Regions from separate parts of the Homo sapiens genome. Here region 2 is reported to be linked to region 1. Evidence: microRNA targets listed by miRTarBase, many of them from high-throughput screens and not tested one by one. Region 1 holds a microRNA gene; the other region holds the end of a gene's coding sequence.
What was found. Region 1 holds the annotated microRNA hsa-miR-6775-5p (UCGGGGCAUGGGGGAGGGAGGCUGG, at 2,273-2,297, opposite strand). A microRNA usually pairs through its seed, bases 2 to 8, with sites in the 3' UTR of a target mRNA and lowers its output. Matches are read on the target gene's strand: a 7mer-m8 pairs with bases 2 to 8, a 7mer-A1 pairs with bases 2 to 7 and ends in A, and an 8mer does both.

Region 2: the mRNA of RGS6 is a reported target of hsa-miR-6775-5p. Seed matches in the 3' UTR shown: 7mer-m8 at 3,678-3,684 and 7mer-A1 at 464-470.

What each region holds. Positions count from the first base shown.
Region 1 is chr16:87,832,359-87,837,431 of GRCh38, forward strand. It overlaps MIR6775 (microRNA 6775), which reads right to left and starts at 2,302; the gene lies at 2,234-2,302. It overlaps SLC7A5 (solute carrier family 7 member 5), which reads right to left. Exons shown (of 10, transcript NM_003486.7): 8 at 4,140-4,289; 9 at 2,056-2,233; 10 at 1-667. The coding sequence ends at 612. SLC7A5-AS1 (SLC7A5 antisense RNA 1) reads left to right here and starts at 3,907. Exons shown (of 2, transcript XR_007065175.1): 1 at 3,907-4,444; 2 at 5,055-5,073. RefSeq lists enhancers at 1,673-2,227, 4,319-5,073 and a silencer at 2,245-2,539.
Region 2 is chr14:72,561,694-72,566,754 of GRCh38, reverse strand. It overlaps RGS6 (regulator of G protein signaling 6), which reads right to left. Exons shown (of 18, transcript NM_001204424.2): 18 at 225-4,338. The coding sequence ends at 4,288. Among named protein-coding and RNA genes, the nearest start is that of MIR7843, 47 kb to the right of the region's middle.

The sequences.
Region 1 (5,073 bases):
CTGGGAGGAATCACCCACCTTGCCCAGATCCCCCACCCCCTCCCAGTGCCACCCTACGGCTGAGTTTCCACTCTGCAAACCCTAAGGCAGAGACATAAGCCCACAGGGTTGGTTTTCACGAATGTCACAAGCCCATGTGTCTGGGCAGCTGTCCGGCTTCAGTGCAAGTCTGTGGTAGCAATGAGGTTCCAAGTCTCAGTAGCTCTGTTTGCCCAGGGTCTGGGCCCTTGGGGCAGGAGAAAGGAAGGCTCCTGCCTTCCCCCAGCTCCTTAAAAAATCATCTTAGTGGTGTCAAGTTGACCCAAAATTTAAGTTTAAAAAAAATATATATATAAGTAAACAAAGGAGGGAAGGGAAAAAGGGCCCAAGGAGACCAAAAGCTGCTCCTGGGCAGGAGCACAGGCACACCTGGGTCCCTGGCCCTCAGTTGAGGGATGAGATTCGTACCAGAGTTTTCACAGCAGCCTCCACTGCCCGACCTGGGAGGGACGGCGAGGGACTGGGATGGGCAGCTGAGCTGTGGGTTGCGGGGAACCGGAGTGGGTTCGAGGAGGTGATCTACTTTAACTGGCCTCTGCGCATGCTCCTCCGGCAGCCACTCGGCCTCCTGGCTATGTCTCCTGGGGGACCACCTGCATGAGCTTCTGACACAGGACGGTCGTGGAGACTGTCAGGAGAGAAGACAGCTGTGTTAGCCTGGGGGCTGGGTAGGCACCCGTGGGACACGGGGGCGTGAGCTGGGGCTCCCCCAGCCCTGCTGTCACCAAACCCAGCGCCGCTGCCCAGCGCTGGGATTTTAAGGAACCTTCCCTTGTGTACTTGCGCATGTGGGTGCCGGGTGCCCGAGGCGCTGTCTTCAACTGAAATGCGGAAGTGCCACATCCCACTCGGCCCACCCCTCGCCTGCTTCAGAACCCTGGGGAGGCAGAGTGCGGCCCCTGGGGCACACGAACCAGGCCCTGGTGTCTCAGCAAAGTGCAACGGGGGGATGACAGGCCTTCCTGCAGGTCCACACCCGGGCCACCACCTGGACACATGCCTGGACTGTTCACAGCAGGCAGGGCCGGAGGGGCCAATCTGCTAACGGGTCCTCGGAAGACCTGTCGCGCCTGGGACTGTCTACAGAGACATCACTCTGTGGAGGGGGACTGCTTTCAGGATAGAGACGGGGGTTTGCTTTAAGCTCTTGGTGTCCTGAATGACAGTTAATGCAGATCCCACTGCAAAGCTTGAGGCAAATGTTCTACCATGACCCTGGCGGTGATCAGAGTGTGGGGTAGGGGTGGGGGGTCTCCCTGCCTGTGTTGCTGCCATCCCGGGAATTCTCCAAGCCACCCAGTGACATGGGGATCAGCATGTAGGCCCGCAAGCACCCCGGCCTTTTTCTACGAGCCTGGCCACATTTGCAGGCGCTGAGGACGGGGTCCTGAGCTTGGTGACAAAGCACCCCTGGGGCTGCCGCTGCACACAGGGCCGGGGGGCGGGTTTCTCCTTCTGCCTTTTTTTTTTTTTTTGAGAAGAGTCTCGCTCTGTCGCCCAGGCTGGAGTGCAATGGTGCGATCTCGGCTCACTGCAACCTCCGTCTCCCGGGTTCAAGTGATTCTCCTGCCTCAGCCTCCTGAGTAGCTGGGATTACAGGTGTGTGCCACTACACCCAGCTGATCTGTGTATTTTTAGTAGAGACAGAGTTTCACCATGTTGGCCAGGCTGGTCTTGAACTCCTGACCTCAAGTGATCCGCCTGCCTCTGCCTCTTTCTGCCTTTCTGGGTAAGTCTGCTGTGTCCGCTGGTGGCAGCCAGCAGGATTTTGTTACTTGGCAGCAGTAGCCTGGTTTTCCGGAATCCCTCGTCCTGAGAGATTAGCTGGTGCTGCGCTGTGTGTCTTATCCCTGAACCATGTGGGCTGCGTGTCACTGGCGGACACTGCAGTGACCTGAACCCTCCTGCCACCCAACACGCTTCGCCCCATGTGGGTGGAGACGGCCGACGCCTCTCAACTCCCTTCGCTGCCCAGGGCAGAGGGTACCACGGGCTGTGGGCCAGCGAGATACTCACAGATGCCCTGGAGGAGCCACTTGGGCTTGTTTTTCCACCAGACCCCGAAGAAGTAGACGGGCAGCCCGCTGAGGATGATGGTGAAGCCGATGCCACACTCCACGGGTGTCTTCCAGAAGGAGACGGCGATCAGGAAGAGGCAGGCCAGGATGAAGAACACAGGCAGGGCCAGGTTCACCTGGGGCAGAGGACAGGGCCTGGGTGAGCCCTCTCCTGTCCAGCCTCCCTCCCCCATGCCCCGAGGTTCCTCAGCCCTCCTGGGCCCTCCACACCCACGGCTGCTGACTTCCAGGTCACCAAGATGCGATCTGCACTCCATCTGCCTCACACACCGGGCTGTCCCGCCCTCGACTCTGCATACAGTGCTGGGCATGTTGCCAGGGGCTCAGGCGGCTTATGATGAGGGATGGAAGGAGACAGCTTCGTCTCCCGAGGCCTCCCACGGGCAGGGAAGGTCACGGCTCCATTCCCACATCACAGGCCTGGAAACCCTGAGCCGCCAGGACGCACAGGGGCCTGATGCTTCCAGGAGACAGTGGCCACCCACTAATAAGCCAGGAGACCACCCTCTTGGAGACGCCGCTGTGGACAGCGCTGAGCAAAAGCCCATCCCTGAAGCTGCAGCCTAAACTGTCACCTTCAGCAGATGAGCTCCACCCGGCACAGAAGCCAGGCAGGGCTGCAAGGAGCCTGCAGGCCGCAACCTGCGGCTCGGCATGGCTGGGGGATTGACTCAGCTGTCCTGAATCCATACTTGGACAGGGCACCCTGGGAGATGCAGGGCTGACCACAGGTCCCAGCCCATCAGTGTGGGCTGCATGACTGCCCTGTCCCCAGGGAACAGACGCCAACCCGTGCCCAGGCTCACAACAGTGGGTAGAGCCTACCCCATGCCCAGGTCCCCATGGGGGCTGAGCCCCCGCTGTGCGCAGTGACTGCCCTGTGCCCTAGGCACTGCCCCAGGCTGGCACAGCAGGCACAAGCTGGTGCCCATGTAGGGCGGCTCCTCCCTGCCCTCTGCAGCCTTCTCTTGGGGCAGCATCTGGGTTCTTGTGCTGACTGTATTTTAAAGCCCCTGTTTTTTTTGTTTGTTTGAGACGGAGTCTCACTCTGTCGTCCAGGCTGGAGTACAGTGGCGCGACCTCGGCCTCCCAGGTTCATGCCATTCTCCTGCCTCCACCTCCCGAGTAGCTGCAACTATAGGCGCCCGCCACCACGCCCAGCTAATTTTTTTGTATTTTTAGTAGAGACGGGGTTTCACCGTGTTAGCCAGGATGGTCTCTATCTCCTGACTTTGTGATCTGCCCGCCTCGGCCTCCCAAAGTGCTGGGATTACAGGCGTGAGCCACCGCGCCCAGCCTAAAGCCCGTTCAACAGCATTCACAGGCACCCCCGGGGCCCCCAGGCTTCGGGAACACAGAGGGAGAGATGGTCCGGGCAGGGAAGCAGGGGCTACTGTGACAGCCATAGGCCAGCTGAGTGACAAAAGCTGCTGGCTAGCAGCCACCAGGGGCTCTGGCCTCTTGTTCTGTGTCAGGGCCAGGGCGGCGGGACTTGCTGGGCCCCAGGCAAGAGCATGGCCTCTGCTGGACGGCCCCGTTTTTGGAGAAGGCAGCCCACGGATAACAGCTACCCCTCTGAATGAGCCGCTGGGGACGGGGAGAGTCCAGGAGAGTCCAGCTGGGCCCAGGCGCTCCTCGGGCCGGGTTCCCTGCATTCCTCCTGCCAGCACAGCCCCGACGGCCCTTTGAATGCTGCGCCAGGCCCGGCTCTGCCCCGCCCCTGCCGGGGCTCACCACCGCCCACCTATGACTGCAGTGTCCTTATCTGCTTCCCTCCACCCAACGGAGCACAAGCTCTGTGCCATCTGCTGTCCTTTGAGGAACCCCGGCTCCTGCAGTCACACTTGGCACCCTCGTAGCTGGTGGTCAAGTCATCACCGGAATTAGTCGACCCAGGTGCATGCAGGCAGGGGCAGGTCCAGAGGCTGAGCTGGGATGCTGGCTCCCAACTCAGGGTCCTTAGGACCCACGGACCCTGCCTCTGTGAAGGGTGCCTGGGTGAGCGGGAGGCCCCGGGCTCACCTTGATGGGCCGCTCAAGCTCAGGCTTTCTGTGGCGCAGCCAGATCATGCCGATGATGGCCAGGGCCACGCAGAGCCAGTTGAAGAAGCTGAAGAAGTTGATGACGGAGAAGATGTCCTTGGAGAAGGCGTAGAGCAGCGTCATCACACACTGGAAGAGAGAGGCGGCTGGCTGAGCCCTGGGGCCCACGAGCAGGGCTGTGGACGGCCGTGGTGGCCACCGGGGACTGTCCAGCCTGGCTGGGCCCAGCTGAGCACCAGGGAATTTTGTTTTAAAGGAGAAACCTCATCTGAGCAACATGCAAGGTCTTGAAGGAGGAAAGGAGGGAAGGAGGGAGGAGAGGAGGAGGGAAGAGGCGGGGAGGAGGGAAGGAGGGAGGAGAGGAGGGAAGGAGGGAGGAGAGGAGGAAATGGAGACCACATTTGGGTTAAGGACAGGTGAAGAACACAGTGTACATACACAGCTGGGCTCTGCTGGACTGTGGCTCTGTGTGCGAGGGCCACAACCTGACCTAACCCAGTGGTCACCAAGAAAACAGTTTCTGTAACCCCCGGCACAGCCGTGCTCCCGAGGACCGTGCAGCTGCCAAAGAGTCCAGGACTTGCTGCCCTTCCTGACTGGCTTCTAACTCAGGGAAGGAGTAGTAAGCAAGGGCCAGGACCTCTGAGGCCAGCCCACAGCTGCCAGACCCCAGCTTCCTCTGCTGTATCTCACTGGCTTTGGGGGAAGCAGCCTGTTGGGGGAGCCCAGTGTGCTCAGGGGTGGGGCCTGCAGCCCACAGCCCTGGAGGAAGCCACTGTGGAGTGGCCTCTCCAGCCCTGGTCACACCCTACGATGAGAACACAGCTTCAGGCACCAGCTCCCTGAATTCCTGACTTACGGAAACTGTGAGATAATAAGTGCTTTTCCTTTTAGAACACTACATTTTGGAGTG
Region 2 (5,061 bases), not on the chromosome of region 1:
TGAGTCCAATGCCCCAGAGATCTGGTTTTTCTGTGCTGCCTGGCAGCCTGGTTGGGAGTGAGAAGGAAACAGGTGTGTGTGTGTGTGTGTGTGTGTGTGTGTGTGTGTGTGTGTGTGTGTGTGTGATAATGGGGAAGGGTGGAGTGTGGGGAGGGGTGGTCGATTTTTCTAGAGGTACATCCTGCCCAACGAACCCCCAAACCAAGGAGCCACACAGAGTTAGCTGGATTGAAGTGGGTTCAAGTCATTTATTTTTAGACTGTACCAGCATGTTTGGTTCTGGGGTCCAATCCCCAAATTCCAGAAAAATAAACTAAAGAGAACCACATGCACTAAGAGGAGGCCATTCCGATGAGTCCGTGATCATGCGGTGAGTGGGCTTAGAGTATAGAACAGGGACCCCTGGTATGGAGCAGGGCCTTCCCTCCCCAGACAGCTGACAGCAGCTGGCTCTGAGCCCTCATCGGGGCTGGGGAGAGGGCCAAGTCCTGGTCATTTGGACCCTGTCCCCGTATAGACCCGGGCCCTTTATTGCTACATTTGCTACTTTGCTACTTTATGGCCCCTGGGTCTAGCCCAGGGGATGCCTTATCACTGGGTGGTACTAATGAGTAGGTTGCTGGCATCTGCTGTTGCTATGGTTACACGAGCACAGGCCTCTCTTCAGAGGGTCCCATGGTGAGTTATTAGTGATTCGTCTGGCCACTATTCAACTTATCCCATGGTCTTTGCTACATATTCAACTTGGGCAGCTCCTTTTTGAGGCTGGTGGTGCATTATCTCCCCCCGAGCCCAGAGTTTCCCAGCTCCTGGACCTTGCAGCAACACCTCCCTCCAATACATTCTGCAGGGCCCAAAGGAAGAGAGCCCTTAATCCTTTCCCTCTTCTGGGAAGGCTTTCCTGGTGGTGGTTTTTGAAGCACATGTATATGGAGCAGAACAGGAGGGATGCATTTTAGGAAAAACATCACCTTCCACAATCACCAAGGGGGCCAGTTGGGTGGCAGGCTCCTGGTTCAGCGTCCTGTTGGTGAGGTAGTTTGAAATCCCAGGAATCCTGCCAGGGAAGAAGCCCCTGGAGCATGTCCCCATGTGTTCAGCTAGTCCAAGCTGCAACTCAGAGTCGCAAGAGGTCCCTCCCAGGATGCTGGCCCGGTACCTGACCACTTAGCGGTGGTGAGCCTGGAGCGCAGGCCCAGCTGACTGCACTGGCAGTTGGGCCCTGCTTTGTTCCTGGGGTATAGCAACACCTTCCCAGGAGAACAAAGCTGACGCATCACTTTCTAGAAGGGCAGGAGGCTCCTCCCCAGCCCAGAGAGTTCCTGCTGCTTAGTTCAGGCCATCTGGCTGCGGCTGGACGTTTATATGTGCCAGCCTACAAGCTTTCCTCTTCCCATGTAGGGAAAGGTTATTTTAGTCAGATGCCAGTGCCTGGTGCCTTGTGTGTCTAACCCGACGGGTGGGTGGTCACTTGCTGCAGCTGCCCTGATGCTGTGGTTGTGGGGCTGCCAAGATGTGGCTGGAGAGCACTTTTCCTCATAGGGAGGAGTCCTAGGCCCAGAGACCACACCCAGTCAGGGAGGCTAAGGCAGCTTCTAGGGGGAAGGGACGGGGTAGGGGAATTTGCTTTGCTACAGAATTGCCTGCAAACATCTAATCTAGTCTGAATTTTTGGCTGTGTAGACCAGGCCAATGGGGGACGGGCCAAGACCAGATTTTCCAAATGTACTTGCATGACCAAGTTCTGCGTGGTAGATGGACCTTGGATAGGCAGCCTCGTTCCACTCCCTTCTTGCAAAGCTTCTGGCTTGATCTACTGGGGAACATGAGTGCCTTAGCTGTGGGGTGGTGTGAGAGTATTATTGCTCTGGGTTTGAGTCCATCTGAAGTCTCCCTAGCTCCGTTGTGCTTACTGACCCTCCCCTCTGGATGTCCCCAGAGGTGCTTGTAAGCCTGCAGCCAGCTCCATCTCAGGGCCACAGTCCACCTGGCTCTGGTCAGATCCTCTGGGGATCTCCAGGGTGAGACCAGTCAGAAGGAGAAGGGGGCACAGAGGGAATGGCCAAGAAGCCAACCCTGCCCTGTCTGCAGCCTGGCTTAGAAAGCCCCTGCATCATGGGGAGGAGCAGGGGGCAGCCAGGCCCCTTGCCCTGGATAACTGAGGGCACTGAGGTGCCTGCTGCTTGGGAACACCCTTTGCCCTATGCCTAGGGGTCAGCACAGCCCGGGGATCCTTGGGCAAGGCTGGGGGCAAATGAACTTAGACTGTAATTTTGTTCTGAAACATGAGGTTTATACAAAGAGAAAGAGGATGAAAGGGGCCTGTCAAAAGACCCCATAACTTGGAATGGGGCTTTATGCCATTGATTTACTCATCAAGTGGTTAGTGCCTCCAAAGTACCAGCCTCTGTGCTGAGCATGTGCAGGTGTCCAGCAAGAATTGCTGCCTCTGAGACACTGAGGACTCAACATCTGTCATCTCTCTGGTTTCCACTGTACCTCCAAGAGAGGAACCATTGCCAGTGGGGGAAACTTGGGCATGGTAGTCAAGAACTCACAAGGATACAACATAACGAAGACTCCTAATGCCCGCGATGGCACTGCTGTGAGGGACAGAAGGCTGGTGCCCTGGGGACAGGGCTGTGTGGAAGCAGACATAGACAGGACTTGGAGGTGGTGGGGTGGAAAGATGGGTCACTGGGGAGCACCCAGGAGGCCGGGTCTGCAAATAAGCAAGCATCTGAGCCTTTGGTCACCAGCTGGCGAATTTGGCTGCATGAGAAAAGAAATACCAGCGATCGCTTTATTGCTTCTATGTTTTTTGTTTATATGCTCCCAAGAGAGATTTTTTTTTTTACCTATGACCAAAAATAGATCAAAGGAGGGTAGTCATAGCAAGTGGGGGAGTGAATGTCTGGATTCAAAACAGGTTACTTAATACAGCTCTGTCTGTGGGCTCATGGGTGTCACAATAACAATGACAATGATGATAGTATTAGCTACCGTTTGCTAAGCACCTACTGCGTATCAGGCACCTGACTCGGTGCTTTACATACATTACCTCACAGCCAGGTTGGCAAATGGTCATTTTGACACACACACACAGGGAATACAGGTGGATCTTTTGCAGGTTTTTGCATTTCCCCTAGGTGACCGGTTTAGAGGGGTGCTTTGGCTGGGCCTTCAGATAAAGACTGGGAGGAGAGCCCTGTGGCCTGGCCTGGTCCCTTCGTAGCATACTCTGCCCCAGCTTCACACACAAAGGAGACCTGACCCAGCAAGGGTCTCACTGTGCCTGTCAGGATGCCACCACGTGGGGGCTGCCAGCCCTGCAATCCAGCCACCTCCTGGGCTGGGGACCCTCCCAGCTCCCACCTGGGGCTGCCAGAGGGGAGAATCCCAATGGCCCCTGAGTTCATGGCCATGTTTATTTTGAGTAAAACATGAGGGAATAAACCAAGGAGCAAGGGGGCAAAGCCAGAATAAATTATGAAATAATTTTCTAAAAGATGGTCAGCAGAATCCCCGCAGCTGTGAAACAAAAAGCTCTGTCATCTACAACAGTGCTTCCTCGAACGCTGGACCCTTGAGACATGTGACGGGACCTGAGGGCAGCCACCGGGCTGGCGGGGACCTCTCCGAACGCTGATCTCAAAGAGGGTGGAAAGACCTTGAGGCGGGGCAATCCGTGAGGTTGCTTTCTTGCTGAAGATGTGATTTGGACATTTTACGTGAAAGCAGTGCCTGGTGCTGGCAGTGACACCCGGGTGGCCACAGAGACGTGAGGGATGACAGGCGGCGGTGGGGATGTAGTGGCTGTAACTATGGGAGGTGCCAGGGAGGTGATGCAAATGCTGGATGTGCTCTCGGTCCACTCATGCCTCTTGAATTTGCCAGAAGGTGTGACCGTCTCCAGACAGCGAGGGAGTGAGGATAATAATATAATCTCAAGTGATAGTCGTGACAGGAACCCCACGACGTGTTCTCCCCTGAATGAGCTGGGATCAGGGCCTCTTAGCGAGTGGAGTGTTGGAATACAACTGTACAAAGAAGAGAGGGCTGTAAACAGGAGCCTCCACCGGGCCCAGCCCAGGCTCTGTGGACTCTTTCTTTCTGGTCTCCCCATTCACCCACCGAGTCTCCCCACCATCGCCCTTCATTGCCCTCACTCTTTCTCCTTCACAGTGACCAAGTCTCCTCGTAAGGAAACTCTGTCCGCAGATGTGGAGCGCCGCCGCCTGCCTGTGGGGTCCGCGGGCCCAGGCCCTGGACCTGCGGTAGGAACGGTCAGGAGGACTGCATCAGGCCCGTGAGGCGCTTGCCCGCCAGCGACTTTCCCTGCAGAGAGACAGCGACAGAGAGGCACGCACAGGCGCACACACAGAGGGACAGAGACAGAGAGCCAGACAGGTGAATTAATTGTTGCATGAGCCATGTAGGCCAAACGACCAACCAACCCAACTGACCATCTTGATATTTGATCTCTAGGTGTATGGGAGCCTTAACTTTGGACAGCTGGAGAAACCAGGGCTCCAGGGAAGGTTCAGGGAGTCCTGGAGGGTCCCCTTATGAGGGTGTGTTGTTGGTACTCTTTTTGTGGTATGGGAATTTTACTTACCAAAAACCAGGTATTTAAACCTTTAGGTAGAGCAATTTTTAATGCCGGCGGGCTGCCCTGAAATTGATTTTGTTCACGTGGGGGAGGAAAAGGTGGACTTGGGGTGTTCTGAGATCAGGGACGGGGGCTTGACTCAAATAGAGGGTGGCCAAGGATCTGGCTGATCAGAAGCTAATGAATGAACTAGTCTTAAGAAGGCAGAGTCCTGTTTGGAATGCAGGGTAGACACAAAGACCTTGAGTCCTCTTGATGACCAGTTCTGGGACCATGAAAGTGGGGGGCATTTGCTGGGGCTCAGAGCCACTGTAGGCCCCAGGGCAGTGCACTCCTGCTGTCTCCTATGTTCTTGGCTTCCCATCTGTGGCACCCAGAGGCAGAGTTTGATGACCCCATACCAGGAAAGCCTACAAGCCCTTCAACTATAACCCATGTGGCAGTTCTTC